7 linked regions of the Homo sapiens genome follow. The protein of the gene in region 4 interacts with the protein of the main gene of each other region in a pairwise test. Each region holds a gene or a part of one and is shown on either strand. Other genes may lie near its edges. The genes, in order: CRB3, CD46, MMGT1, ANKRD46, HSD17B11, LDLRAD1 and HSD17B13.

Evidence for each region.
Region 1: the proteins of ANKRD46 (region 4) and CRB3 interact in binary tests that used the Homo sapiens proteins (3 or more experiments, as listed by UniProt).
Region 2: the proteins of ANKRD46 (region 4) and CD46 interact in binary tests that used the Homo sapiens proteins (3 or more experiments, as listed by UniProt).
Region 3: the proteins of ANKRD46 (region 4) and MMGT1 interact in binary tests that used the Homo sapiens proteins (3 or more experiments, as listed by UniProt).
Region 5: the proteins of ANKRD46 (region 4) and HSD17B11 interact in binary tests that used the Homo sapiens proteins (3 or more experiments, as listed by UniProt).
Region 6: the proteins of ANKRD46 (region 4) and LDLRAD1 interact in binary tests that used the Homo sapiens proteins (3 or more experiments, as listed by UniProt).
Region 7: the proteins of ANKRD46 (region 4) and HSD17B13 interact in binary tests that used the Homo sapiens proteins (3 or more experiments, as listed by UniProt).

What each region holds. Positions count from the first base shown.
Region 1 is NC_000019.10:6,463,005-6,467,410, reverse strand, and holds CRB3 (protein crumbs homolog 3 isoform a precursor), read right to left. Parts: upstream 3,141-4,406; 5' UTR 3,061-3,140; intron 2,804-3,060; 5' UTR 2,710-2,803; coding exon 2,628-2,709; intron 1,867-2,627; coding exon 1,793-1,866; intron 946-1,792; coding exon 739-945; 3' UTR 461-738; coding exon of another isoform or gene 389-460; 3' UTR 190-388; downstream 1-189. UniProt on the Homo sapiens protein: Involved in the establishment of cell polarity in mammalian epithelial cells. Regulates the morphogenesis of tight junctions.
Region 2 is NC_000001.11:207,786,355-207,790,322, forward strand, and holds part of CD46 (membrane cofactor protein isoform 3 precursor), read left to right. Parts: intron 1-3,898; coding exon 3,899-3,950; 3' UTR 3,951-3,968. UniProt on the Homo sapiens protein: Acts as a cofactor for complement factor I, a serine protease which protects autologous cells against complement-mediated injury by cleaving C3b and C4b deposited on host tissue.
Region 3 is NC_000023.11:135,963,648-135,967,615, forward strand, and holds part of MMGT1 (ER membrane protein complex subunit 5), read right to left. Parts: intron 3,847-3,968; coding exon 3,743-3,846; intron 1,537-3,742; coding exon 1,377-1,536; 3' UTR 1-1,376. UniProt on the Homo sapiens protein: Part of the endoplasmic reticulum membrane protein complex (EMC) that enables the energy-independent insertion into endoplasmic reticulum membranes of newly synthesized membrane proteins.
Region 4 is NC_000008.11:100,531,992-100,535,959, forward strand, and holds part of ANKRD46 (ankyrin repeat domain-containing protein 46), read right to left. Parts: intron 1,321-3,968; 5' UTR 1,218-1,320; intron 470-1,217; exon of another isoform or gene 365-469; intron 1-364.
Region 5 is NC_000004.12:87,384,221-87,388,188, forward strand, and holds part of HSD17B11 (estradiol 17-beta-dehydrogenase 11 precursor), read right to left. Parts: intron 1-3,968. UniProt on the Homo sapiens protein: Can convert androstan-3-alpha,17-beta-diol (3-alpha-diol) to androsterone in vitro, suggesting that it may participate in androgen metabolism during steroidogenesis.
Region 6 is NC_000001.11:54,008,187-54,011,686, forward strand, and holds part of LDLRAD1 (low-density lipoprotein receptor class A domain-containing protein 1), read right to left. Parts: intron 2,225-3,500; coding exon 2,096-2,224; intron 945-2,095; coding exon 796-944; 3' UTR 1-795.
Region 7 is NC_000004.12:87,319,717-87,324,418, forward strand, and holds the start of HSD17B13 (17-beta-hydroxysteroid dehydrogenase 13 isoform A precursor), read right to left. Parts: upstream 3,167-4,702; 5' UTR 3,126-3,166; coding exon 2,916-3,125; intron 1-2,915. UniProt on the Homo sapiens protein: Plays a pivotal role in hepatic lipid metabolism. In vitro, it catalyzes the oxidation of a variety of lipid substrates, including 17beta-estradiol, retinol, retinal, and leukotriene B4.

The sequences.
Region 1 (4,406 bases), on a different chromosome or scaffold from region 4:
TCACTCTGCTCGGAAATCCATCCCACCCACCTCTGTCCCTCCAAGGGCAGCCTCTCTAACTGGCTCCTAGCAGGGAATTCCAGGAAGCCTCCTGGTCTTCTAGAATCCTGGCAACCTTACAATTCCTCTCGGCATTTGTCACTTCCATCTCAGCTAATGCACCCACCAGCTCAAACACACCAATAAAGCTTTTGTTACATCTCACTACTAATTTTATATAAATATATAAAAGTGAATAGCCCCATCCTCTCTTGACCTCAGGGGCAGAGTCTTTGAAGTACCTTCTTCCCTGCTATTAAGCACTGGGTGGATCTGACTGCCCAGAGAGGGCACTGCCTTTCCCCAAGGTCACACAGCAATGAAGGGAGACAGATGCAGGAGAGGGGACCTAGATGGGCAGGCAGCCCTGCACCGTCTCCTTGGAGTCCTGAGGGGCCCGGGCCTCGGCTGCATGGGAGAACTGAAAGAAAGGAGAGGGGGTTGTGGGGCCTGCTGGACACACAGAGAAAAGTTGGTTCCGCAAGCAGGGGGGTGGGTCCCGAGCCCCAGCACCCTGAGCTGCAGGCACAGCCAAGCAGAGGCAACATGCTGCACAGAGCCCACCACATGGGTGCCCCCAGCCTCTCCCCACAAGTCCTCCTGAGCCATCAGAGGCTGGTGTCTCGGTGGCAGCTGCGGTGTACAAGCCAGCAACCCGCAGTCCTGGGCAGTGTTGGTGGCTGCAGCAGGCCCCAGCGTTCAGATGAGCCGCTCTTCCGGCGGCAACTTGAGGTTGGGGGTCGGTGGCACGCGGGCACCCACCTGCTCCTCGCTACTGGGCCGGTAGGTGCCCTCCGTCTGCCGCTTCTCCCGAAGCTTCCGCACCAACAGTGCCAGCCCCACAGCCAGGAGCAAGGCAGCCAAGAGGGAGAAGACCACGATGATAGCAGTGATGGCTTCTGGACGCTGCAGAGAGGGGACAGGTGTGAATCACCTGAGCCTGGGTAGCCTGTCCACCTCCACCTGAATGGCATCCCCCTCATCACCCCCTACCCCACAACACACACACACACATACACACATCTGCCACTTTTGGTGATCTGATCCCCACAGTGGGGCTTCCTGGATCCCTACCTACCTTGTCTGGGGTGCGAAGGCTCCCCACCACCTGCCATGTCCGGGACACCCCTCGCAAGCACCTGCCATGTCTGGGACTCCGGCTTTTTTTTTTGAGACCGAGTCTTGCTCTGTTGCCCAGGCTGGAGTGCAGTGTCACAATCTCGGCTCACTGCAACCTCCGCCTTCTGGGCTCAAGCAATTCCCCCTGCCTCAGCCTCCCAAGTAGCTGGGATTACAGGTGTGTGCCACCCCGCCTGGCTAATTTTTTGTATTTTTAGTAGAGACAGGGTTTCACCATGTTGGCCGTGCTGGTTTCAAACTCCTGACCTCATGATTTTCCTGCCTCGGCCTCCCAAGGTGTTAGGATTACAGGCGTGAGCCACCGCGCCCGGCCGGGACTCCTGCTTTCATCACATCTACCAAGTCTGAGCTCCTTGCTCCCCCACCCACCTGAGAGGCATATGGAATTCCTGAGCCCACACATCTGACAGCTACAGTATTCCTGCCCACTCCCTCCAGGGTGTCCTAGTCTTCTTGGTCTAAGACTTCAGGTCTCTCCTACTTAGAGCTCTCCAAAGCCACCCTGACCTGCCACCTCTGGGGGGAGGGGGTGTCTAGTCCTCTCTACATGCTATATGTGTGACCCCTAGATAACATCCTTGCTGCCATCTTCCCACATATACCTCCAACTCACCAGGTTGCCATCGGAGCTGGAGCTGGTGGATGAAGGCAAAACAGTGCTATTCTCATTTGCAGAAGTGGTCTGTACTGTGGAGGGTGAAGGCAGAGAATAACTCAGTCTCCATCTTTCTCTCCCATCCCCGCCCATCTGCACCTGCTTTGGGCATTCCCCTTCACCTCCCCCTAGCAGGTCCCAATTCAAACTCTGCCTTTCATTCGCACAGAGATGGTTGGGTGTCTTGCAGGTAAGACCTCTCCCTTGGGTGTTTGCTCCCCAGGACACCCCCCCGACCCAGTCCCGCAGAGCCCAGTAGGGTGTCCAGAAGTCCACCCCTCCCCTACTCACCTCTCGGCCCTGGGCCCTTAAGGATCTGGGCGGGCCTAGCTTTTCCCTGGAGTGTCTGACTCACACCTCCCCACAGGCTCCCAAAACAAATCTAAGACTGAATGGCTGGGGTCTACACCTTCAGCCAACCAGGTCGACCCGGCTCGGCAGGCCTCCTCCCAGCTCCCAGTTCACCCAAAAACACCTGCACTATACCAAGACTCAGGTACGCAGCCCTTACCTCCCCCCAAGTCCTACTTAGGAGCCCCCACTCCAACACACAATTCCACCTCGCTGGGGAACTCAGGTCTCCTAGACCAACTCCCAGTGTCCAAGGAAGAAACTAGAAATCTTAATCCCCCCGAGCCCTAACCCTGTAGACCCCTCCCCAAGGTATTTCTTCCCCGCTCCCCAATTCTTGACCCTCTCTGCGCCCCAGATACCCAGCGCTTCTAAGCCACGTCCCCAGCAGAGATCCAGGAATCCAGACCCCTCCCCCCCAGCGCTCTCAGCTGGTACCTACTTTGCCCCCAGGCTCGGCCCCAGCGGGCCAGCAGGAACGGCAGGCCCAGCGCCAGAAGCAGCCCCAGCCCGGGGTTCGCCATGGGCTGGGTGGCGGGTTGGCAGCGCCGAGGAAGGGGCTTCTCGCGCTCGCCCCTCCTACCGCATCTCCGGCCAGGGGCACCTGCGACGGGGCACCTGGGGACAGGAGAAGGAGAGGCCCAGGCGTTGGGATCGGGGTGGGGACCCCGGCGCAGGCCCACAGGAGAGACAACTGGCGCCAGGGCACCCATGAGTCCCGCCCCGCCCCAGCCGCCAGAGGTCAGCGATTAAAGATTAACTCCCAGGAGCGCGTTCCTGGGCTGGGGAAAGGAAGGGGACGGGACGGGACGGGACGGGACGGGCAGGGTGGACGGGCGAGGGGGCAGGCCTAGCGGTGCGTCCTGCCTTCCTACCTGGCCCGGGCGTCTTTGACCTAGCTCAGGTTCCTGGTCCGTGTCCCTCCCTCGAACCCTCGGTCCGTCGGTCGTTCTGTGGGTCCGACCCCACCGGCTCCGCCCTGTCACGTGACCCGGAAAGTTTAGTCACTCACCTGGGAGAGCGCACTTCCGGCTTGTGCACCTGAGCCTCGCTGAGAGGGCGGAGTCAAGAAGGGGGCGGGGCCGCGCTGTGGGCGCACCTGTAACGGGACCCCAGTCCCTTAATGGGGATGCGGGGAGGGAGACCGCGGAAGCGCGCAGGTGTGAGGGGGACCTTACACCTGCATTGCGAGCATATCTGTGGGAGCGCACAGGTGTGGAGACGCACGGGGTATGTATGTACCCGTGCACTAGGCACTCCTGCCTAGGGCAGACTTGGATGGGGAGCGCTTAATGAGAAAAAATACCTGCCCAGGCGCAATGGCTCACGCCTGTAATCCCAACACTTTGAGAGGCCGAGGCAAGAGGATTGCTTGAGGCCAGGAGTCCGAGACCAGCCTGGGCAACACAGCGAGGCCTCATTCTCTACAAAAAATAAATAAATAAATAAACAAATAAATAAAAAGAAGAAAATAAGCCGGGGGCGGTGGCGTGATCCTGTAATCCCAGCGCTTTGAAAGGCCGAAGTAAGAGAATCACTTGAGGCCAGGAGTTCGAGATCAGCCTGGCCCACAGACGGAGGCCCCATATTTACAAAAAATAAGAAAATTAGCCAGATGTGATGGCACGCACCTGTAGCCCCAGCTACTTGGGAGGCTGAGGTGGGAGGATCGATTGGGCCCAGGAGTGGAGGTAACAGTGAGTGAGCTATGATTGTACCACTGTACTCCAGCCTGGGTGACAAAGTGAGACCCTGTCTCTAAAAAAATTTTAAAAACAAAAAAACAGCTGTATGGTAAACACCTGTGTGGAACCAAACCTGTACAGAAGACAACTGCACAGGTGTTCACATATAAGAACATACAGAAAACAGATGGCCGGGTGCGGCGGCTCACGCCTGTAATCCCAGTACTTTGGGAGGCCTAGGCAGGAGGATCACCTGACGTCAGGAGTTCGAAACCAGACCAGCCTGCCCAACATGGTGAAACCTTGTCTCTACTAAAAATACAAAAATTAGCCGGGTGTGGTGGCAGGTGCCTGTAATCTCAGCTACTCGGGGGGCGCTGAGGCAGGAGAATTGCTTGAACTCAGGAGACAGAGATTGCAGTGAGCCGAGATTGCACCATTGCACTCCACCCTGGGTGACAAGAGTGAAACTCCATCTCATAAAAAAAAAAAAAAATCTGCATTGAATCACAGCTATACGAAATATAGCCAAGGCT
Region 2 (3,968 bases), on a different chromosome or scaffold from region 4:
TAAAAATGTAAAAAGTGAGTGGGTTTAGAATAGAAGAAAAATGTACAAGTACATATCTTCTAAAGAAAATAGGGTTTTAAAACATCAAACTCAAATTTTAGTTAAAGAGCTTACAGTTTAACAAAAGACTTAGAATGAATCCTGGAACACAGACTAAGATTAGGTGCTTTGAAATTTCTGAAAGATAATATACATTCATTTTTACTGATTTTTAAAAACTGTTTTCCCCTATAGTTTTAGAAATAGCTTTGAAATCAAACCTAATAATTTTAAGACTTTTGGTACTCATGGTTTTATGATATATATTCCTTTTATACTGATCATCAGGTTTGGGCTAAGTCATAAAAGTACAAGCTTTACTCATAAGGAACTCAAACTTTTTTCATATTACTTGGTTATCTTTTGAAATACCCATAATCCCTTCACTTGAATCTTAAATCTTGTATTAATGGAACACGATATGCATATTTGATTTATCTATCAGTTGTATATTCTAAAAGTTACATATCTACAACGTGAGTACAAAATATTATCAATGGAATATTTTTACAAATCCATAAGGTTTGCGTAGAAACAAGTTCTAAAGAAAACAAAACAAAGTCGCATTCTGCTTATTTTCCTTCTTTGTTTAAAATATCACTGCATCAGAATTTTTAAAGGTTCATTAACAAGTATTAATCAAACTCTCTCTAGCTAGCAGTTAATGGTTTTTCTGTTGTTGTTTTTTGCTTTTTTGTGATGGAGTCTTGCTCTGTCACCCAGGCTGGAGTGCAATGGCGCAATCTTGGCTCGCTGCAACCTTGGCCTCCTGGGTTCAAGGGATTCTCTGCCTCAGCCTCACGAGTAGCTGGGATTACAGTCGTGCACCACCACCACCGGCTAATTTGTTGTACCTGTACTAGAGATGGGGTTTCACCATGTTGGTCAGGCTGGTCTTGAACTCCTGACCTCAGGTAATCCGCCCACCTCGGCCTCCCAAGGTGCTAGGATTACAGGCATGAGCCACCGCGCCCGGCCTTAATGGGTCTTTTAAAGCTCAACAGTTATCTGACTGTTACACTCCCAAATGAAAGGTTCAATAGCAGTAGTGAACTGAGATTCCAAAATTAATTTGTCCAGTGATTTTTTTTTAAAGCCCATATTTTACAGCATAGGGTCCAACTGACAGTTGCCATTATTAAAATTTTAAAATATTTTGGGAAGGTATGATATCTTTAGCCAATGCAACATAATTAATCCTGCAAATAGTAGCACAACTTGAGGAAAAATAGTCCAGAAAATGGTGTGAGAGACGAAACTCCTAATTGCCTTTGAACTTTAAAATATAAACTGCGTGGGAATCTTTTAGAATAGATGTTACCCTTTTTATGACAGGAACATACTCGATTGGAAATTCAGCATATGTAATGGCTGAATCCAAAGCTAGGCTCTCTTTATGGATCTATTATTTTGTAGTTCCATGTTATTTTGATAGCTGAACTGAATGTGAGGGTGGTTTATCTTTCTTCTTCAGAGTCTAGAGGAATGTTTCTCTGACTTTAATGTGCACATTAGTCACCTGGAAATCTGTTAAAGTACAGATTCTGATTCATTGGGTTTGGGGTGGAGCCTGAGACCCTGCCTGTCTAGTGAGCTCCCAGTGCTGATGCTGCTGCTGTGCCTGGGCTACACTGACCAGGGTGTTGCCCACTACTGATGTGCCTATATTGTTGAAGTCTGAAGAAACACTATGAAGCTTATTGGCAAATTTTTCTAATATTTAAGATAATTGAAGTTTTTAAGATTCCTCATCCATGTGTATCCTTAAAAAAAGGCTATGGGGTAATAAATAGTACTTGGCTTTTCTTACCTTCTTTAACTCTTAAAAAACAAAGATTTCCAGCCGGGCCTGGTGGCTCACGCCTGTAATCCCAGCACTTTGGGAGGCCGAGGCGGGCAGATCACGAGGTCAGGAGATCAAGACCATCCTGGCTAACACGGTGAAACCCCGTCTCTACTAAAAATACAAAAAAAAAAAAAAAAAAATAGTGGCGGGCGCCTGTAGTCCCAGCTACTCTGGGAGGCTGAGGCAGGAGAATGGCGTGAACCCCGGAGGCGGAGCTTGCAGTGAGCGAGATTGCGCCACTGCACTCCAGCCTGGGTGACGGAGTGAGACTCCATCTCAAAAACAAAAAACACAAAAAAACCCCAAAGATTTCCATTATTTTCTTTGCACTGTTTAATGTCCATAATCTTGTCCCCCCAGATTGGCTGTTGTGGCCTTAGAAACTTCTTATAAAGACTATAAAATGTCTGGAGGCACTTCTCCACTTCCGGGGGTAACTGGAAGCAGGCTAGCAGGCACAAATAATCTCAAATTGTTGTTAAAGCCTGGCACAAAATGTATTTCTTGTAAACTGGTATTTATGGTGATTTGGGAACGTAATTACTCTTCTGCAGCCTTCATCTCAAAATACAAAAATAGTGTAAGGAGTCATTTTAAGATCATCCAACATCATTTACATTACTTGATAAAAAGTGGGCAAAAGGTTAAAGTATTCTGCCACTTTTCTGTTTCATAGCTCTCAGCTGAGAACAGTATAGGATACCAGTGGGTCCGAAACAGGTCCCATCCACATGCTCCCTCCTTTTCCCTTCCCATTTCCTTTCTTTACTAATTCTTCTACCATACTTTTTAGTCTTGGAAGCCACAGCCCTGTCTTTGCTACTGCTTCAGTCCTGTATTGCATGGCATGACTGTGCTTCTGAACAACAGATGCCTTTTGTTTACATAAATATTTAAGTAATGGTTTTTTTTAAATGCATGATTATTTTTTAACTCTAGTTAAGCATCCCTGGATAAGTGACAGTTTGGCTAAGTTAGTGAAAGTTATTTACATAATTTATATATTTATTACCTGTGACAAATAGTTTTTCCTTTTTTCCATTAATGGTATTTATTATTTTGTATAACCTAAACTGACTTTTAATGTTACATTAATATTGACTGACCCAATTACTTTATTAAAAATAGTGGTCAGTTCAGGTAATTGGGGCATATAGTGACATGGGGCAAAAAAAGGATCAAATTAACTTAAATGTTTTTCTAGTTGGCCCTTAAATTCTTGAGCATTTAACCCTTCAAAAATTTTTGAGCAACTACAAAAATGTTTTGTAATTAGTTTAGAAAGCATCCTTACAAAATTAGATCCATCTCAGAAATATGAGACGCCATGTAATACAAAGTTTTGCAACGATGTCTCCTCAGGTTGAAAACAGATGTGCCACAGGAAGACACTTCTTAATGTAAAAGTCCAGAGACATCTGAAAATACATGATGTCATAAAGTTGATTTCTAGATAATATTACATGGATTTGATACATACTCAATGTATTCCCTCAAAATTGAGGGTGTTAGGCCGGGTTTGGTGGCTCACGCCTGTAATCCCAGCAACTTTGTGAGGCCGAGGCAGGCCGATGGCTTGAGCTCAGGAGTTTGAGATCAGCCTGGGCAACATAGTGAGATGCTGTGTCTTGAAAAAAAAAAAAAAAAAAAAAAAAAAAATCAAGAGTGCTAGAGACCGGTACCATTTCTCCCCAACAATCTGTTATTCCTTGAAAACATTTTGACATGAATCACTTCATGCAAAATGGCTTCAAAGATAAACATATTAAACAGGAATTTCCAGTCTGTTTATCTGCTGGATGATCTATATGACTTCAAAGTTCAAGTAGCTTCTAGCACAAAATTCATGTTTCCAGTCCTTCAGTGAGAATGAGAAAGTCTTAAGTTATGAACCTAATTCTCAGCTTTCCTGCTACTCTCTTACACTGGATTTTATCCCACTTGTTATGCTACTCGTTTCTTTTTGGTTTGAAGTCACTATTTTATTCAGCCGTTTTCTCTTCCTCTGTTCAGCACATACCTAACTGATGAGACCCACAGAGAAGTAAAATTTACTTCTCTCTGAGAAGGAGAGATGAGAGAA
Region 3 (3,968 bases), on a different chromosome or scaffold from region 4:
AGTCAGAAGAGAAGAGCTGATGTCCATTTCTAAAGGAAAATAAAATGCCTACAAGTACAATGGCATCTTATGACTCATGCCTAAAGCACATTTCCTTTTCAAACCTGCATACAGTTATTCCCTTTTTACACCTATACAATTCAACAAAAGCAATGTTTTTATACCTGTACAATCCAAAAAAAGCAACGTTCTCTACAAAGAAATGTTGAGCTTCCTACAGCTCTCTAGCTCAAAGAGCTAGCCAATTTCCTTAAAAGTAAAATTACTGTTTCTAAAAATATCAACTCTGTATCCTCATCCTCACTTTCAGCAACATACAGTGAAGATGGAAAACTTGAAGACTGCTATAAACCAGAAACTACAAAACAATTTCTTAAATGACCTGATTTTCCTAAAAACCTTAAAAACATTAGTTCCAAATACTGAGAATATATTTGGCCCAATTCCTTTGAACTCTGTCTTTAGATTAATGACGAGTTTCCTTTATTTCACTTATTCACTAGTTTAGTATGAAATAAACAGAGTTTGAATCAGTTAAACTGGCTAATGACAATTTTCCTCAATGATTTTTCTTCTGCATAGGCATGATAATGAAATCACAAAAGGTCTTCAACTAGTCTTCAACTATTCTTACACTATATAATCAATTAGGGAAATTTTTACAGACAAATGAAGAGAACACAAGTAGCTTTACAGTAAGTTGAGCCTGTTACATATATTTGTTCTGACAAAGAATTTCTGACACAAAAATTGCTCACTGCACACAGAATCTCAGAGAAATGATGAAACAAGACAGCTGATGGTAGAAGGTATATGGGAGCAGGGTAGGGTGAAAAGTCACAAATAAATTAAAAACTGGCAAGTACTTCTGAAGCAGAGCCACTTTTTAGGGGACACAAGAAAAACTGTTAAATCACCATTTTGGTCTCATCAGGGAAGTCCATTTGTTAAGAATTGAAGACCATTTTACTATAATTCATGCTGCAAAACACAGCAGTCACACAGTATTTCCAAAAGGATTCCAAAAATTGTAGTGCAAAAGAAAAGAAATCTAAAAAAATAAATAATCACAAAAACCACCAACATTTTTCAAGGAAATGTGTTCAAAACAGTGGCTTTTACAAAAGATGTGGATTTGTTTTAAATGAAAAAAAAAATAATTCCTATATGAAATACCAAAGACTCATTTCACATATAACTTACACTGCATTAATGATTGGATTAACAGTATATAAACAAGGGCCATGGTTTTTTTTACTAAAGTAGGTCTGAAAGATCAATATAAATACTAATGGGGGCAGGGAGGAGTGTTTTATACCCCAAACTCCAATATTCCAGCTCTGTGTCCTGTCCTATTATTATAATTTGTAAAAATCTTAACGACGCAGTGATTCGAGTTTTCGTAACTTCAATGATGTGTTAGAGGACAATGCATCTTGGTTTGAAGAATTTGCTGTATCCGAAGGCCGGAAAAGTACTCGACCACGATGATTAAATACATAAAAGGATGGGTGATTCCTTAACGTATCAAATGTCCTTGAAAGAAGAAAAAAGCATCAATTTTAGATAAACCTTTATAAAACCCTACTTGAAAATAAGTAGGCTTCTAACGAATTATCAATTTACTATGGGTTATATTTTTTAACAAGTATTAATACATGAAATCAGACTGTAAATAATAATTATACTGTATCTCTTTTCCTATATAAAGAAAATAAGAAACCTGGAAAAGCAGCATATAGCTCTCAAATTTCTTCTTTTTAAAAAAAATAGAGATAGGGTCTCATTCTGTTGCCCAGGCTGGAGTGCAGTAGCACAATCATAGCTCACTGCAGCCTCAAACTCCTGGACTCAAGCGACCCTCTCATCTCAGCCCCCCAAGTGCTGGCACTACAGATGCGCACCACCACACATGGCTTTCTTTTATTATTATTTTTTGTAGAGACAGGGTCTCCCAATGTTGCCCAGGTGGTCTCAGACTCCTAGGATCAAGCAATTCTCCTACCTCAGCCTCCCAAAGAGCTGAGATTACAGGTATGAGCCATGATGCCCGGCTTCTAATATTTTTTTTTATCCAGCCATTCCTTCCAGAATGCCTATGAATAACAACACAAATACTAGCTCAACTATTAATCTCCCCTGTAAATCTAACAGTAACGCATGTCGAATAGTCTTTTTAAAAAAGCAGCACATAGATTACAGCTTTGATTATTCTCATTTGGCCCTCATTATTCAAGCCATATGATCGTTTCACAGATCTGTTTTCCAAGAATCTTTCAAGCACAACAAAAAATTCCTTTTGGCCCTCTGTACCTGCTATTGTCCAAACACATATTTTTCTACCACCTACTTAATGACATTGTTTTACTTCTTTCTTTCCTGGCCCCTTGCCTGTGATTCTTGGTAGACTCTTTGTAAGAGCAAGCAGTGATGACAGTAAAGTATCCTTTCTACTTTTCCAGTGAGAGATATGTAGTCTAAAAGAGTTCACAAACACCTTGGTGTGTGGCCTTTATGGTTTTTGTTTTTCAATATTATTTTCCTGGAAAGGATAGGAGAACTCTTCCTTTGACAAAAACTCAAATCTCAGCCCACCTAAACATCCAAGCATACTCCCATACAAAAAAGAGGCCTGATATGTAACTCCTTAAAATGTACATATTGGGTGGGGCACGTTGGCTCACATCTGTAATCCCAGAACTTTGGGAACCCAAGGCGGGTGGATCACTTCAGGTCAGGAGTTCGAGACCATCCTGGCCAACATGGTGAAACCCCGTCTCTACTAAAAATACAAAAATTAGCCGGGCATGGCGGCAGGTGCCTGTTAATCCCAGCTACTCAGGAGGCTGAGGCAGGAGAATCACTTGAACTTAGGAGGCAGAGGTTGCAGTGAGCCAAAATCATGCCACTGCACTCCAGCCTGGTTGATAGAGACTCTGTCTCCATAAAGAAAGAAAGAAATAAAAATAAATAAAATGTACATAATGAACTAAAAGGGGGATATGACTTTCCTCTAACACATAAATGTTCACTGTGACTCCTTCTAAGAAAATATTGTAAAGGGGCATCATGTCCAGGATCAAGAAGGTGGGTAAAGTCCAGAGATGGAACTGAACAAAGCTAAAGGATGATTTTAGGAAAGTAAAAATATGAAAAATAAAAGCAAACATAGCTCATGAAAATAGCTTAGAAGTAGTCCAGGAGAAAAAAAAGAAAGCAGAATAACAAATATACTTTTAATCCAGTAGTAGAAAAGGGCCTGGGAGCAGAGCTTATCTCACATACTAGGTTCAAGTGAGAGGGGAAACCGAAAACCACTTACTCTTCCAAAGACTAAGCTGGGACAAGAGGATAGAAAGAGGATGGTAGGAAGAGAGGGATGGAAGGAGTGAAAGGGGGAAGGGAGGGGGGAAGAAAGGGAGCAAGGAAGGAATGGAAGGAGAAAGGTTAAAAATTCTGAGGCATTATTTTTCTATATATCTATTTTCATCCATACAACCAACCAATAATTTTAAGCAACGTATTTTTTTGATTCTACTGTGAATAATCTGGCATTCATCTTCCATTTTCTTACAGTATCAAATACCGCCTCAATGTTTTTACCTCATTATTCATACAAACTGTGTAATCAAAATGCAGAAACAAAACCAACTTTTATGTATCAGAAAACATACTTTTTAAAATTATGTGAATACAGCAAACCTCTATGAAATGCAATGCCTATGAAAAGAGAAAGACTTACTTATTTTTCAGTTCTGAAGTGGCATCCATGTCTTTAAACTCTCCTGCAATATGAACTATACCGTAACAGGTAACTGCAAAGGCCAGAAGTGTCTGAAGAACTATCTGTGAGTATAAAGATTGATAATACTAAATAACACAAACATTATTATAAATATTTACAATTTTCTCTCTACCTCTTCATTGCCTCTAACAGGTAGTCCTCTCAGGGCCACCATCAGGGAGAC
Region 4 (3,968 bases):
GGACGCACTGGAGAGGAACAGAGAAGACAGAATTAGCACAACTTAATGACTCACTGGATATGAAATGAAGGGTGAAAAGGGGCTGTTAAGAATAATTTCAAATACGAAAAAAAGTTTATGATTAAAAACTACAGAGATTAAAATCAAAATAAACTTCAGATTATGATACATATGATGACTTTTTAAAAATCTGGCTGGACACAGTGGCTCACACCTGTAATCCCAGTACTTTGGAAGGCCAAAATGGGAGGATAGCTTGAAGCCCAGGAGTTCGAAACTAGCCTGGGCAACATAGCGAGAGACCCTGTCTCTATAAAATATTTTAAAATTAGCCAGGCATGGTGGCGCGCGCCTTTCGTCCCACCTGTTCGGGACGCTGAGGTGAGAGGATCACTTGAGCCCGGGAGGTCGAGGTTGCGATGAGCTGTGATTGAGCCACAGCACTCCAGCCTGGGCATCAAAGTGAGGCCTGTCTCAAAAAAACAAACCAAACCAAACCAAACCAAACCAACAAACAGAAAAACTCAATGAGAAGAATTTACTCAATAAAATAGTCAAGAATTCTTTTGCGAGGGTAATCTAAATATTTTCCCTTACAGCAAGGGTGTCCAACATTTCGGCTTCCCTGGGTCACAATGGAAGAAGAATTGTCTTGGGCTACACATAAAATACATAATGATAGCTGATAAGCTTTAAAAAATTGCAAAAAAAATCTCAGAATGTTTTTTAAAAGTTTATGAATTTGTGTTGGGCTACATTCAAAGCTGTTCTGGGCTGCAGGTTGGACAAGCTTGCACAGTATTGAATCATAAAAATGGAAAAGCTATCATAAACCTTTTTCAAAATGAAATGCCACATATCAAGTGCTTTTCAAAAGGTAATGTGTTTTGGTTAAATTTTTAAAAATAGATAATTTAAAAAATCTAGTTGGTGTTTTTGATTCAGACACAGTAAGAATTCTTGTGGTTTGCAGACTAGGATACTTCTGAGTGTTGGCTCAGCAAGAAATACAAGTCTCTGTGTCTATTTTTCAGGTGAGAACAAGTGTGTATTTTGTCAGTTTCTCTGTGTCCCTGAGCAACTACTAAACTTAATCCCACATTTAATAAGCCCAATGATAGTTATTTTTCATCTTGATCACAGAACTGAATCTGTCCTAAAGCAGTTCACTGAAGGTTTCACATCTTGTGAGGAAGTCCACAGTAGTAAATACTCACGTAAGCCTTAAGATTAGATCTTTTCGTTCAGTGGTCACTCAGCAGTTTCTCTGAATTCTCAAGAAGGTTCAACAAAAATATTCTGTAATGTGCTGGCAAGGATCTACAGTAAATAGAAAATTAAGTTATAATAGAAGTGTGGTGAGAAAAAGAACTCACTGTTCTATTAAATACAGACAGGTTACTGAGCCTGAAGAAATTCTCTAGAAAATCTGTAGGTGAGGCATCAACTTGTGAGGCCAGAAAAATATCTGACGAGTAACAAAGTAGTGAAAAGGAAGCAAAGAAGGGCTTAATAGAAGCTGCTCTGTGGCCCACAAACAAGAAAGCAAGACAGAAAGATAAAAGAATAAGAATCAAATTATGTGCCATCACTAAAGAACAAATTGGGCTCCGAAAATTCACTCTCAGTCATTACTTGGAATTCAGAATGCATATTTTTCACATTATAAATGGAGGCTAGATCCCAGATTAGTCCACAAAAGCATTTTTATAAATAAAATACTATTCATAGTGGGAAAAAATAAGTTTAAAAAGCCAATACTTATATTTAAACCAAACAGGATACATTTAAGAAAAAGTATTTCTAATCTACCTTGAATGCTGGTACTTAAATCTCTTTAAATCTGTTCCCTTCCTTGTCTTTTCAGTGTGAAATAAAAGCTGGCCCAAGTCTATCTGTAGTCTTCTTTACATAGCCTGACGCTGCTCCCCCACCCAGGCTGCACTTCTCTGCACTGAGAGAGACTACGAGGGCACCCTGTCTGCCCACTCAGCTCTTCTCTGGAAGGACCGTGGAAGCAGGGTCATGGGCAGGCAGTAAGGACCACAAAAATAGCAATATTAGTTCATGAAACAAACATTCACTGTGTGCCTGCAATGTGCCAGATACCATGCTATCAAGTCCAAATCCCAAATTCCTGGTCAGGGTGAAATACAGGTTAACTTTTTACCGATCATCCTTGTTCATTGTTATCAAATCCCTGTGAACAAATTTATATAGGGAAATAATTAATGGTATTTTACAAAGCTCCATTTACAATATGTAAGTCAGGTTGTATCATAAAGGCTATCAGTGCTAGGCTGGAACTGATGACAATAGCTGACAAACTGTACCTGAGGACCAGTCCCACACGAGGGTCAGTAAATATCACGAAGACATGATAACACACAAAACATCTACGCTCCTCATTTCCTACTTCTTTTGTGATACCACAGTATCAATTTAGACGAACTTCATATCACGGAGCCACTTACCTTGATTTCCTTAAACAAATATTATGTATTCACCCAAAGCCTAATATTTTTCCTCTCTTGTCCTGACCTCTAGAGCTGAGTCTTTAACGACTAGAGCCTGTCTCTAATGTATGATTTGGCTTTAATTTTCAATGTTAATTAAAATGGTGCAAGTGGGTTATTCTGGATGTGGTAGAGCTCACATTAGGGAAAAAGAAAAAATTTTGTTTTTCATCTAGAGATGGAATTATAGTTCATATGGTCATGCCCCCAAATAATCCTAATGTTCTCTTAAATCCACAAGAAGGACAATGCTTCTGCAATTTTTTCTTTTTTTATTTTTGAGACAGAGTCTCACTCTGTCGCTGGTGCCGGAGTGCAGTGGTGCAATCTCGACTCACCTGCAGAGGCCTCCGCGTTCAAGCAATTATCCTGCCTCAGCCTCCCCAGTAGCTGGGACTACAGCCATGTGCCACCATGCCTGGGTAATTTTTGTATTTTTAGTGGAGATGAGGTTTCACCATGTTGGCTAGGCAGGTCTTGAACTCCTGACCTCAGGTGATCCACCCACCTTGGCCTCCCAAAGTGCTGGGATTACAGGCGTGAGCCACCGCAACCAGCCTGCCATTTTCTTTGGATATTACAATGGCCCATAAGAAAATACACTTGAACAAATTACAGATTTGTATGATTTCATAATAATATTATACAAATTCATTAGACTAAATTACTAGAAACCTGCCAAGAAAACTTCCAAGACCTCAGTTAGACCTTACTCACTAGACTCTGTTAATAGCTTCCCTAAGAAGTCATAAAGTGAATACAAATCAGAGCACATATTTAACGATTGTCCAATGGGTGAAGAGGACTAAAGACTTTTTTAAATTAAACTTTTTGAGATAATTATAAATTCATATGCAGTTGTAAGAAATAACACAGAGTGATCCTGTGCACCCTTTATCCAGTTTCCCCCAATGGTAACATCTTGCCAAACTATAGTACAACATCACAACCAGGATACTGACATTGATATAGTCAAGATACAGAACATTTCCATCACCATGAAAAATCTCTCATATGTTGCCCTTTTTAGCTATTCCTGCTTCCCTCCCATGCCAGTCTCTCCTTAACACCTAGAAAACACTACCTAGTCTTCCACTTCTTTAATTCTGTCATTTCAAGAATGTTGTATAAATGGAGCCATACAGCACATACAGGAACCTTTTGGGATTGGTCTTTTCACTCAGTATAATTCTCTGGAGATTCATCCAGGGTAGCTGTGTGTATCCATAGTTTGTCCCTTTTTTATCCATAGTAGTATTCCGTGGCATGGGTGTACCACAATATAACAGTTCATCTACTGAAGGACATCTGGTGTCTCCAGTTTTTGGCCATTGTTAAAGCTTCTACAAACATTTGTTTGTATGTGACTGTAAATCTTCATTTCTCTAGGATAAATGGTCAGGAGAGCAACTAGTGAGTCGTATGAAGACCTGAAGATTGTGACTAAAAGAC
Region 5 (3,968 bases), on a different chromosome or scaffold from region 4:
TTATAATTTCTTATGCCTGTAATCTCTTAATCCTGTTATCTTCATAAGCTGAGGATGTACGTCACCTCAGGACCACTGTGATAATTGTGTTAACTGTACAAATTGATTGTAAAACATGTGTGTTTGAACAATATGAAATCAGTGCACCTTGAAAAAGAACAGAATAACAGTGATTTTTAGGGAACAAGGGAAGACAACCATAAGGTCTGACTGCCTGTGGGGTCGGGCAAAAAAGAGCCATATTTTTCTTCTTGCAGACAGCCTATAAACGGATGTGCAAGTAGGAGAGATATTGCTAAATTCTTTTCCTAGCAAGGAATATTAACATTAATACCTTGGGAAAGGAATGCATTCCTACGGGGAGGTCTATAAATGGCTGCTCTGGGAATGTCCGTCCTATGTGGTTGAGGTAAGGACTGAGATACGCCCTGGTCTCCTGCAGTACTATCAGGCTTATTAGGGTGGGGAAAAACTTTGCCCTGGTAAATCTGTGGTCAGACCGGTTCTCTGCTCTCGAACCCTGTTTTCTGTTGTTTAAGATGTTTATCAAGACAATATGTGCACCACTGAACATAGACCCTTATCAGTAGTTCTGCTTTTTGCCCTTTGAAGCATGTGATCTTTGTACCTACTCCCTGTTCTTACACCCCCACCCCTTTTGAAACTCTTAATAAAAACTTGCTGGTTTTGAGGCTCAGGGGCATCATGATACGTGATGTCACCCCCAGCGGCCCAGTTGTAAAATTTCTCTTTATACTGTCTCTCTTTATTTCTCAGCCGGCTGACACTTATGGAAAATAGAAAGAAGCTACATTGAAATATTGGGGGCAGGTTCCCACAATATTTTTCTTTTACTGAAATCTCCCTCACAAACTGTAGTATACTCTCATGAGGAACTCTTATTCCTCAAGGGACATCAACATCTCAGGTAAACTTTATTTTGCTCTCCTATACTTAACCAGCAGCTTTTGGCATTTCCTTTTACAAGTATATTAATGTTGTATACACATAGGATAGAATATTATTCAGCCTTAAAAAGAAATGAATTTCTGACACATGCTACACGTACAACCTTCATTATGCCAAATGAAATAAGCCAGACACAAAAAACAAATACCATATGAATGTACTTATATGCAGTACCCAGAGTATCATATTCATAGAGACAGAAAATAGAATGGTTGTTGCCAGGACCTGGGGAGAGAGAGGGCTGGGGAGATATATTGTTTTAATGGGTACAGATTTTCATCTTGGGAAGATGAAAAATTTCTGGAGAGAAATAGAAGAGATCACTGCATAATAAGGTAAATGTACTTAATGCCACTAAACTGTACACTCAGAAATGGTTAAAATGGTGTGTTATGTCATATATTTTACCATATTTTAAAAAGTTTTTTAAAAGTATATTGTATTGGCCAGGTGCGGTGGCTTACACCTGTAATCCCAGCACTTTGGGAGGCTGAGGTGGGCAGATCACAAGGTCAGGATTCTGGGAATAGCCTGGCCAATATAGTGAAACCCTGCCTCTACTAAAAATATAAAAAATTAGCTGGGTGTGGTGGTGGGCACCTGTAATCCTAGCTACTTGGGAGGCTGAGGCAGGAGAATCACTTGAATCCGGGAGGCAGAGGTTGCAGCAAGCCAAGATTTTGCCACCGCACACCAGTCCGGGCAACAGTGCGAGACTCTATCTCAAAAAAAAAAAAAAAAGTATATTGTATTGATTGGGTCTTCTCTTTTTTGAACAAATATATTTCCTTACATGAACAAATTTTACAATAAAAATTTATGTCCCATTTATTCTGTTTTCAGAGATTTGCTTATTACTGGTTGGCTTTCTGTAACCACCAAGCAACTAACCACCACTCCACTATATGGATGCAAAGATACCCTTCTTTCACATCCGCTGTCTCACTTTTGCCCTGTTTCCTTGGTCTTCCTCATTTAGGTTGGTCTGCTTTCCACACCTTCTGAATTGTGAAACTTTTTTTTTTTTTTCTGAGATGGAGTCTCGCTCTGTCACCCAGCCTGGAGTGCAATGGTGCAATCTTAGCTCACTGTAGCCTCTGCCTTCCCGGTTCAAGTGATTCTCCTGCCTCAGCCTCCCTAGTAGCTGGGATTACAGGCATGCGCCACCACACCCGTCTAATTTTTATATTTTTAGGAGAAACGGGGTTTCACCATGTTGCCCAGGCTGGCCTTGAACCCCTGGCCTCAAGTGATCCTCCCATCTCGGCCTCCCAAAGTGCTGGGATTACAGGGGTGAGCCACTGCACCCGGCCGGTGCAACAAATTTAAGTTCTAAATTCCTCCAGAAAAAATTCCGGACAGTGCCCTGTAGATAGTTGGTAAGAAATAAAAAATAAGCAGATCTTCAAAAAAAAAATGAATTCTTCCTTTAAAATGTTTTGCAGCACAGTACAATTGCTCATAACTCTTCAAGATTTCCCTTGGTAACTTTTTTCAAATATGTTTGTCTATTGGTACAACTAAGACCTTTACACCCATTACCTTGATTACTAAAAATTGAAAAACTTTTTAAATTATGCCCATTATTCTTTCAGTTATTCATTAATTCAGTTTTTCATTCAACAAATAGTCTTTGAGCATATATTATATGCTCACCACTTACTGTAAATTTTTCTTTCCAAACTAGTATTTTAGGAAAAAGGGTCTCCCTGTTGCGCAGGTTGAGTGCAGTGGCTATTCACAGGCATGATCCCACTACTGAACAGCACCAGAGCTCTGACCTGTTCCGTTTCCAACCTGGCTGGTTCACCCCTCCTTAGACAACTTGGTCTCCTTCATGCCCACCGCCAGAAGGTACCATATTGATTCTGAACTTATGCAGACATGCAGAGCGCACCACAGTCCAGAACTCCCGGCCTCAAGCAATCTTGCTGCTTCAGCCTCCTGAGTAGCTGGGGCTACTGAAGCATGCCACCATGCCTGGCTACAAACTATTCTAACCAAGCATGGGAATGAGAATAGTCAAGAAGTGATAGATTATCACAAAGCAGAATGAATAATTCCCATTATCAGGCTTAGTGGAACAACAAAGCTGACACCACCATTAATTCTTCCCTAAATTAACATATGGTACATGTGGACACTGCTGTCCTCATTACATGGATGAATCTAAGAGATTGTCTTTGTACTCTAGGTGAAAGGGCCCTCCGTTTGGCCCCTCCCTGCCCTGCCAGCTAGATCTCATAACAATCAAACACCACTCCACTTTCTTCCTCATTCTCCAGGTATTCACCAGCCCAAGAGCTTCACATCTCCAGTTTCTGCTACCTGGACTGCTCCAAATCCCCACCCTGTCCTTTCCCAATCAGGTTTAGTGGTTCTCAGCCTTCTATAATTTCAAATCTATAAAACGGCAAGAAAAATAGAGTGGGATGTGTATACCGAACTAGGATTGCCAAACTTTTGGCCAAATAAGGACACTCAAAACTAACAAAATGACCCTCATATGTTATCATGTAATTTCATTAACAAATATATTTTTTACCCACAAAAAGTAGGAAGGATATAATCTCAAAATAAAATATAGATTATTTAAATTAAACTAATTTAACCTAATAAAAACTCACTACATTGTCCTCAATTTTTCTGACCATTACTCCGAATCTCTGCTACTGCCAACCCGGTTCAATAGTCCCCATCATTTCATCTCATGCCTGGATTATCACAGTAGTCTCTTACTTTACTTGTTCCTTCCATCTTTTCTCCTCTTACATCTCTCCTAAGCCCAGCAGCTGGAGGATCCTCTTCAATAGGAATTACCCTCAAAACCCTTCATTGACTCCCCAGAGTAAAAAGCCAAAATACAGGAAATTTTATCATCTGTAGCTCCAGCCCTTTAAATCTCTACACCGGTACTGTCTCATAGAAATATAACGCAAGCCATGTATATAATTTTAATCTTTCTAGTAGTCACACCAAAAAAAAAAAAAACAATCTAG
Region 6 (3,500 bases), on a different chromosome or scaffold from region 4:
GGGTGGCTTCCCACTGGTAGGATGCCAGATATCCTGTTTCATGTGCTGTGTCACTTGGTTAAATCAGTAGAGCCTGCTGGGTTAACTAAACTGGGGAAGATGCTAAAGTTGCATCCAAGCCCAGTATATCTGCCTTAGGTACCAAAGGGGTAGGAAGTGGCATATGTTTCACGTATGTGCCATCCATGAAGGCTAAACTCGGCTTGTCATTTAAGCCCCAGACATGTCATCACTCTAAGGGATGACGAGATTAGGATCCACAAGTATGCCTTGGAGCAGTTAGCAGATTTCCTCTGTGTGGCCCCAGAGACAGGCATGAAATCATGGAAGCAGATTCCCTTCGTCTTTGTTTGTGTTTGTGTTTTGTTTCATTTTTTTTTTGAGACAGGGTCTCACTGTGTTGCTCAGGCTGGAGTGCAGTGGTGTGGTCACAGCTCACTGCAGCCTTGACCTCCTGGGTTCACACAGTCCTCCCACCTCAGCCTCCCTAGTAGCTGGGACTATAGGTGTGCACCGCCATGCCTGGCTAATTTTTGTATTTTTGGTAGAGACGGGGTTCCACCACATCATCTTTGTTAGAAGCCACCTAACATGGTAATGAGCTCCTGGTCATTGGAAGCATTCAAGCAGAGGCTGAACAACTTGAAAGGAGGAGAGAAAATTCCTATTCAGAAATGATGTGTAGATCCCATTTCAAAGGCTGCTTCCTGCCCTTGTGCGCTAGGATTTGATTTTCATGTGAAGGGTTATCAGTGCCATTCCAGCCAGCCTTCCATGCTGGCCTGAGTGGCCCACTCAGGGTCCGGGACAGGCATACTCATCGGACCAGTCGGAGCAGTGCTGTACATGGTCGCGGCAGAGATGCCTCGGTATACAGTCGCAGTACTTGAAGAAGGTTGAAGGACAGCGCCACCACCCAGGGCCGCAGGGTGGGCACACAGTTACTGCAGAGACAAGAGCCAGCAGGAGAGCAGTTGCTGTGTCCTGGAACGCTCTGTGCACCAGGGCACTCCCTAGTTCTGAAACCTGCCGTAGCTCCCCATGGCCCCAACCCATCTGACGTGAGTTGAGTGTGTTCCTAGTTTTCCTGCGGCAGAGAGAATCTAGACTCCACAGCTCACAGGCTATGTGACCTCCCTCACCCTGTCTGAAACTGTTTCCTAGTGTGCTCAAGCTTGTTATCAAGCAAAGGATGTCAGGCAAAGTCCCAGGCACACGGTAAAGACTGCAATATGAATGGGTGCCCTTCCTTACCCTGAGTCCAGCTATGCTCACCTGCCATGACTGCCTGAGGGTGCTCCTAGCCTTCTCTCCTCTGCTCAGGCCTCCGGCATTCCTCCCCACACACCCAGCCTCTACCTACTGAAACCCGTCTATTCTTGGTCTTCTTGAATGCTACCTCTTCTGAGAAATCTCCCTTGATTCCTCCAGGTCCCCAGCACCTCCTTTCGGCATCAGCATGATGTGAGTCCTGGGGGTAGGACACATGCCTGATTCCTGATGTCCCCCACCTGAATCTGATACCAGGTGCGTTCTGAGCACCCCACCAATGCTCAGAACATGTTTGTTGATTGACCACTGGGGAAGAGATTGAGAGGAAACTCTAGGGCAGCTACAGGACTCGGGACTTGGATCAGGAGGCCTGGGTTCACACCTGAGCTCCCTTCCTGTCACACATTGTACTAAGTTTCTCCTCTCAAAGCCTCCATTTACTTACATACAAATTGGGGCCAGTGATTCCTGCCCTGCTTTCCTCACAGGGTCACTGGGAGGTGCAGAGATAAGGGAACCCCAGGTTCAAATCCCAGCTGGGCCATGTATGTACTCCTTGCATGACCACCTTCTGGGACCCAGTTTTCTCATCTGTGCCTTTGAAGGTGACTTCCCCACTGCAGAAGAATGAGCCTCCAGAAAAAGTCACTTGGAGTGGTAGTGAGTACCCCATCACAGGATGTATTCAAGCAGGGGTAGAAAACTCCTTCCTAGGATGCAGGGAAGCATGCAAGGGGGAGCCCTAGAGATTCCCTGCTCACCCTTTGCCCTCTGGCTGCTGCCTGGACACCAGCCCCAGCCCAGCCTGTGCCCAGACCCCTACCTGGGCTCAGTTCATCTGAACAGTCCCCGCAGTTGTTAGTGCCATCACATTTTTGGTCTGAGTAGATCCAGGAGGCCGGGTCTCCACAGTGGGCCACAAGGAAGTGGGGGAGGCTCTGGGGCACATCTCCTGTAGAGGTACAGAGGAGGCAGGAAGAAGTCCACATCTGGCCACAGCTGTCTGAGGGTTATCGGGAGGAGGATTGACCACCCTGGCAGTGGCCAAACTCAGGATCAGTGCCCATCCAGCCCAGAAGGGTGCAAGCAGAAGGTTTCCTGGGGAGGTGGTGGAGTCAGAGGGAGAGGAGAGCTCCGTTGCTGGACAGAGGCCCAGAGATCTGCCCCTCCCTTCCTCAGTTCCTCCCCAGCTCTGGTGTGTTCCTGCCCCACACCACTGCTGACACTATGCCCCCCTCCACAAAGAGCCTCCTTGACACCTATCCAAAACCATTCTTTCAAGTTCAGGTTCAAGTTCCATCACCTCCAGGAAGCCTCTTCCAACTGGAACATCACAGGAATAAATGTGGAGTCTTACAGTTGGGCCCCGGATCTCAGGGGAAGATCTAGGGTTCACACACCTTGTAAGGCAGAGTCAGAGCACCTTTCTTGAAAGTGTGTTCTGTTAGGCAGCAGTGTGATAGGGCTATCAAAAATTCACACAAACTCAGGCCACATCACTAGAGGTAGAAAACCTTGGGCAGGGAGGGAGCAAGATTCTGTTCGTTAGACTGCCCAGACCCAGCTAGAAGGGCTGAGGATGTTTCTGAGGCCTGTCCAGGGACGGGGACATGGGAAGTTGATATTCATTCTGTGGAGCATTGATGGAGTGGGGAGGGCCAGGAACTGGGTCACAAGGGGGCTGACTGTGACCTGGAGAAGGGGATGTGGCGTAGAGAAGAGAAACCTCATGGAGGGCAAGGGAGCAATCTTCAAATCCATGCAGCACCACCATCATGGCAGAAATTAAAGTGTGGTCTATCGGGGCAGGGTTGACAGAAGGACAGAGTTGGAACCAATCAGGGAGGAACCACTCTGGGAGGCAGCTCTAAGCCTGGGACAAGGAAAACCTTCCCATGGAAAAACCTTCCAATCCTTGCATCCCCTGGGATGCAAGCAGAGGCTGGGTGGCCTCGGTTGGGCTTGCTAGAGAGGGGATTGGGGATGAGCTGGGGCAAGGACTAGATGCTTTTGAGATTGCTTCTTGTCCTGAGGGTCTGTGATGCAATGACTCTCCCTCCATGAGCTCCCCCACCCCACCCACTGCACCTCTCCAGGCTCTCTCTCTCCTGTGGGGTCAGGCTCCTCTCTCCTGAGAACCTTCAGGTGTGTCTAAGGTCTGGGGCCAGGTCTTCCCATTCATTCATTCGCTCATTCATTCAGCAAGCCGTTCTGAATACCCCTCTGTG
Region 7 (4,702 bases), on a different chromosome or scaffold from region 4:
TTGGGAGTGAGATGGGCAAGGCCACTGGATGGATTTCTCATTTATGTACCAAACTTGCCCATAACCATAGGACATGGAGACAGAGCAATTTACTTTCAGCCTAAATTCAAAGACCTCTTTCCTAAGATAAAATTGCTCTAATGTTTCTTGACTCACATTCTGGAAAATTATAATTCTTTTCAAGTTTTCACCTCAGGTGACTTTTATAGAAAATATTATAAGGTTTTAAAAATTATACTTTTCCGTCTCACAATCTGTAAACTCTTCTCTGTGACAAAGAGGCAAGGATACCTGAAAAGCCCTATTCTTCGTGTATTGAGATGACAGTGGTGTTGCTGCTATTTAGGGCAAACCTTGAATGAGTGGTCTCTGGGTCCTTTGTATTTCGCTACTGTAGGCTAAACCCTGGAGCAGCAGCCTGAACTCCCCAAACATGGATGTTAGGACCCAGTCTCAAAGTCAGTATCCCCTCAAATAGCCTTTTGTGGGATTGCAGAAGAGTAAAAAAAGAATAGGAGAGTCTTTCACTGATTTAGTTGGTAGCTTGCTCACTGCCAGATTGCACAAACCACACCATACTCTCTCATTTGTTTCTAGGTCAGTAGAGAGCATAAGTTACCAGAGCATTCATCAGATGTTTTGATTGAAGAATTAATTATTCTTCAGTTTTTTTTTTTTTTTTTTTTTTGAGACGGAGTCTCGCTCTGTCGCCCAGGCTGGAGTGCAGTGGCGTCATCTCGGCTCACTGCAAGCTCCGCCTCCCGGGTTCACACCATTCTCCTGCCTCAGCCTCCCGAGTAGCTGGGACTACAGGCGCCCGCCACTACGCCTGGCTAATTTTTTTGTATTTTTAGTAGAGACGGGGTTTCACTGTGTTATCCAGGATGGTCTCGATCTCCTGACCTCGTGATCCGCCCGTCTCGGCCTCCCAAAGTGCTGGGATTACAGGCGTGAGCCACCGCGTCCGGCCTATTCTTCTGTTTTATAACTGAGCTAGACAATTGCAAAATGTGATGCCTTGTCTTTTTGTTAGCAAAACACTTGCTTTAGCTTAAACTCCAATGTGTTTTTTGAACCGTATTCCCAACGCAACAGTTTAGATTGCATAAGAGCCAAACTGCTACTGTGTCTCTCATCTCACAGGGCAAAAGGAGCCAGTTATGATGAAAACTCAGCCAGCATCTTCCTCGCCTAAAGGAGATCTGAGTTACATTACAGCCTTAGAGTGAATCATTCAGTAGCTTAAATGTTTAACCATGAAATTTAATGATTCAAAGAGAATTTTTGAGGTTGGGTTACCTATTTTTCTTAAGTCTTTTTTTATTTTTTTTGAGACAGAGCCTGGCTCTATTGCCCAGCTTGGAGTGCAATGATGCCATCATAGCTCATTGCAGCCTTGGCTTCCTGAACTGAAACGATCCTCCCACCTCAGCCTCCCGAGTAGCTGGGACTACGGGTGTGCACCCCCGCACCCAGCTAATTTTTGTATTTTTTGTAGAGTTGGGGGTTTTGCTGTGCTGCCCAGGCTGGTCTTGAACTCCTGGGCTCCAGCAATCTGCCCACCTCCGTCTCCCAAAGTGCTGGGATTACAGGTGTGAGCCACTGCACCCGCCCTTAAGTCATTTTTAATACGACTTCCTTCTAATTTACTTTTCTCTTGTCTCTGGAAATTTTAAAATTTAAAAAAAACTTAATAAATATAGCCCTTTCCCCAAAAATACACATCTGGAAAGAGATTTGAAGGTTAGATTTCATCAAGCCCTTTTCATAGATTTATACTTATTTATATTTTTGGACAAATGCCTGAGAACAGCAGGCAACAATTTTCTCTATTTGTAAATTCTTGCTATCTTCCAGAAAGTTCATTCGAATTTCTTCAAAGACCAAAAAGATGGCAAATCATTTTTATATACATCAACTCCTCTATTATATAAATGCTCATATCTGTTAAATAAAAATGTAGTAGCTTTTTTGTATAGTATTCTTCACTATTCAGAAAAAAAACAGAAAAGAATTAGTTCTCTAAGTGTAAGAGACATTTTAGGTTTCAACTAAACATGACAGCAAAGAACATGAGAAAGTAATAATATAATGGTAATTAAAACCACTGTAATTTGCAGAAAATGTGATTCTCAAGGAGTACTTCACAATTTTTCCAATCCTAAAATCCTGTAAACACTTCTCTGCATATATTTTCATGGCCTTACCAGAATTTACAAGTTTAGAGAAAATGATACAAGATTTCAGTTCCTTCAGTTTTATTTGGGGTTGTTAATGTAGTGTTTACAAGTAAGAACACAGGAAAAATACTAATGTCCAAGGAAAAGCCTGACTCACTGCGCACATATTTTATTTAACACAGTTATTGTTTATCATGTGCCACGTATCGTTTATCATATGCTAAGTGCTGAAAATATTACTTATTTAATCCTTTTGACTACGGACTGGCAAACATTTTCTGTAAAGGGTCAGACAGTAAATATTTTAGAACTGTGTTGCTTGTGCATGAGGGGAGGCACTAAAGGTTTCTGTTGCAAGTTCTTCGTTTGACTTTTGTTTGTAGCTGTAATTTTCAGATCCCGTTCTTGCCCATCCCCTAAGTTATTATCCCCACTTCAGAGCCAAGAAAACAGGCTGAGAGATAATATGTGACTTGCCTCATTTAGCAGCTTGGAAGGAGACTGGCTCCTGAGTCTTTCTATCAACCTGCACACCATGTCATAAAAATCGCTGCTTAGTTCTTAATTACATTCCCTTCATCTAACTAACCTGACACATATACAGACTAAGGGACCAGGGAATTTATCAAACTTTGAAAAACAAAAATACAAAGATAAGTAGATGGTAAGTCAAATAATTCTTAAAATACATATCTTACTCTGTGACTTTAAAAAGTTGGAAGATGTATACATTACCTTATTAATATCCCACAGAACCAATATGCTCTGTCGTTTTGCAAATTCATAAGTAGTCTGCCTGCCTATTCCATGCCCAGCTCCAGTAATGAGAACAATCTCCCCAGCCACAGATTTTCTCCTCTGAGGAATGAAAAACTTCACCAACGACTCCAAGTAGGAGTAGATGATGGTGATCAGAAGCAGAAGGATTTCTAGGATGATGTTCATGGCTTTGCTCTGTCCTCTTCCTTCTGGTTCAGTCCTTGTGTAGTCCTAGGGAGGAGGTACTGTCTACACAGAGCTCTAGGGAAGGGGTGTGCCCAGTTGTTAATGGGACTACCAGATGGAAGCCAGCTTTGGAAGCAGGCCTTGTTCACGTGTTCTAATGGGTTTGAAACACCTCAAATATGAAGTGATGCCAAGTGATGCCAAGAGCACAAGAGAGTGTGCTCTCTGGACTTGTTTATCTGAAAAGCAGTTATGTACTATATTTCACCTTGAAGTTTCACCTCTAGAAACAATTCTAGGGGCCAGGTGCAGTGGCTCACATCTGTAATCCCAGCACTTTGGGAGGCTGAGGCAGAGGATTGCTTGAGCCCAGGAGTTCGAGACCAGTCTGGGCAACATAGTAAGACCCTGTCTCAAAAAAAAAAAAAAAAACTATAGAAAAAAATTAGCTGGATATGGTGGCATGTGTCTGTAGTCCCAGCTACCCAGGAGGCTGAGGCAGGAGGATTGCTTCAGTCCATGAGTTCGTGGTGCAGTGAGCTGTGATTGTGCCACTGCGCTCCAGCCTAAGCAACAGAACAAGGCCTGGTCTAAAAAAAAAAGAAAAAGAATTCTGGAGATACTGCATCAGCTAATGATCTGTTGGTATCTTTCTGGAAATTGTTACCTTTTTTCAATATGAAAAAGGAGAATGTAGAGATAAGCTTAAAGAAACTTAGATAAAGTCTGAATGAACCCAGCTTAGCTATTTGATTCATTTATTCACAAAAGCTCAGCATCAATATTTCAACTGGCTAATTATTTTACACATGATGACCATTTCCCTGAAAATCTCTTGAGTTTGGGGGAGATTTTAGGATACAGAACCATCAGTTCCCTTTGTGATAATACTGGAAAGAGCATTAGACCAGGAGTCGGGAATCTCAACTTTAAAGTGGGGTGGCTTCTGTCTTTGTCTGCTGCTGTAACAAATTACCATTGACCAGGTGGTTTATAAATTCCAGAAACTTATTTCTCACAAGAAGTCCAAGATCAAGGCGCTGGCATATTCTTTGTCTGGTAAGAGCTGGCTTCCTGGTTGATAGATGGCTGTCATTTCACTGTCACCTCAAGTGGCAGAAGGAGGAAGGAAACCCTCCGTGTTCTCTTGTATAAGGGCAATTATTCCCATGGCAGAGCTCTCATGACCTAATCACCTCCCAAAGGTCTCACTTCCTAAAACCATCACACTGGGAGATAGGATTTCATAATATGAATTTTGAAGGAACACATGCAGCCTATAGCAACTTCCAATAGCCAAGAAGTGGGAACAACCCCAGTGTTCATCAACAGATAAACAAAATATGATATATACATGCAATGGAATATTACTCAGCCTTAGAAAGGAAGGAAATTCTGACACATACTACTAGATAGATGAACCTTAATGACATTATGCTAAGTGAAATAAGCCAGATGCAAAAGTATAAATATTGTATGACTCCATTTATATGAGGTACCTAGAGTAGTCAAATACACAGAGAGAGACAGAAAGCAGTAAGGTGGTTACTAGGGGATGAGGAGAAAAGGAATGGGGA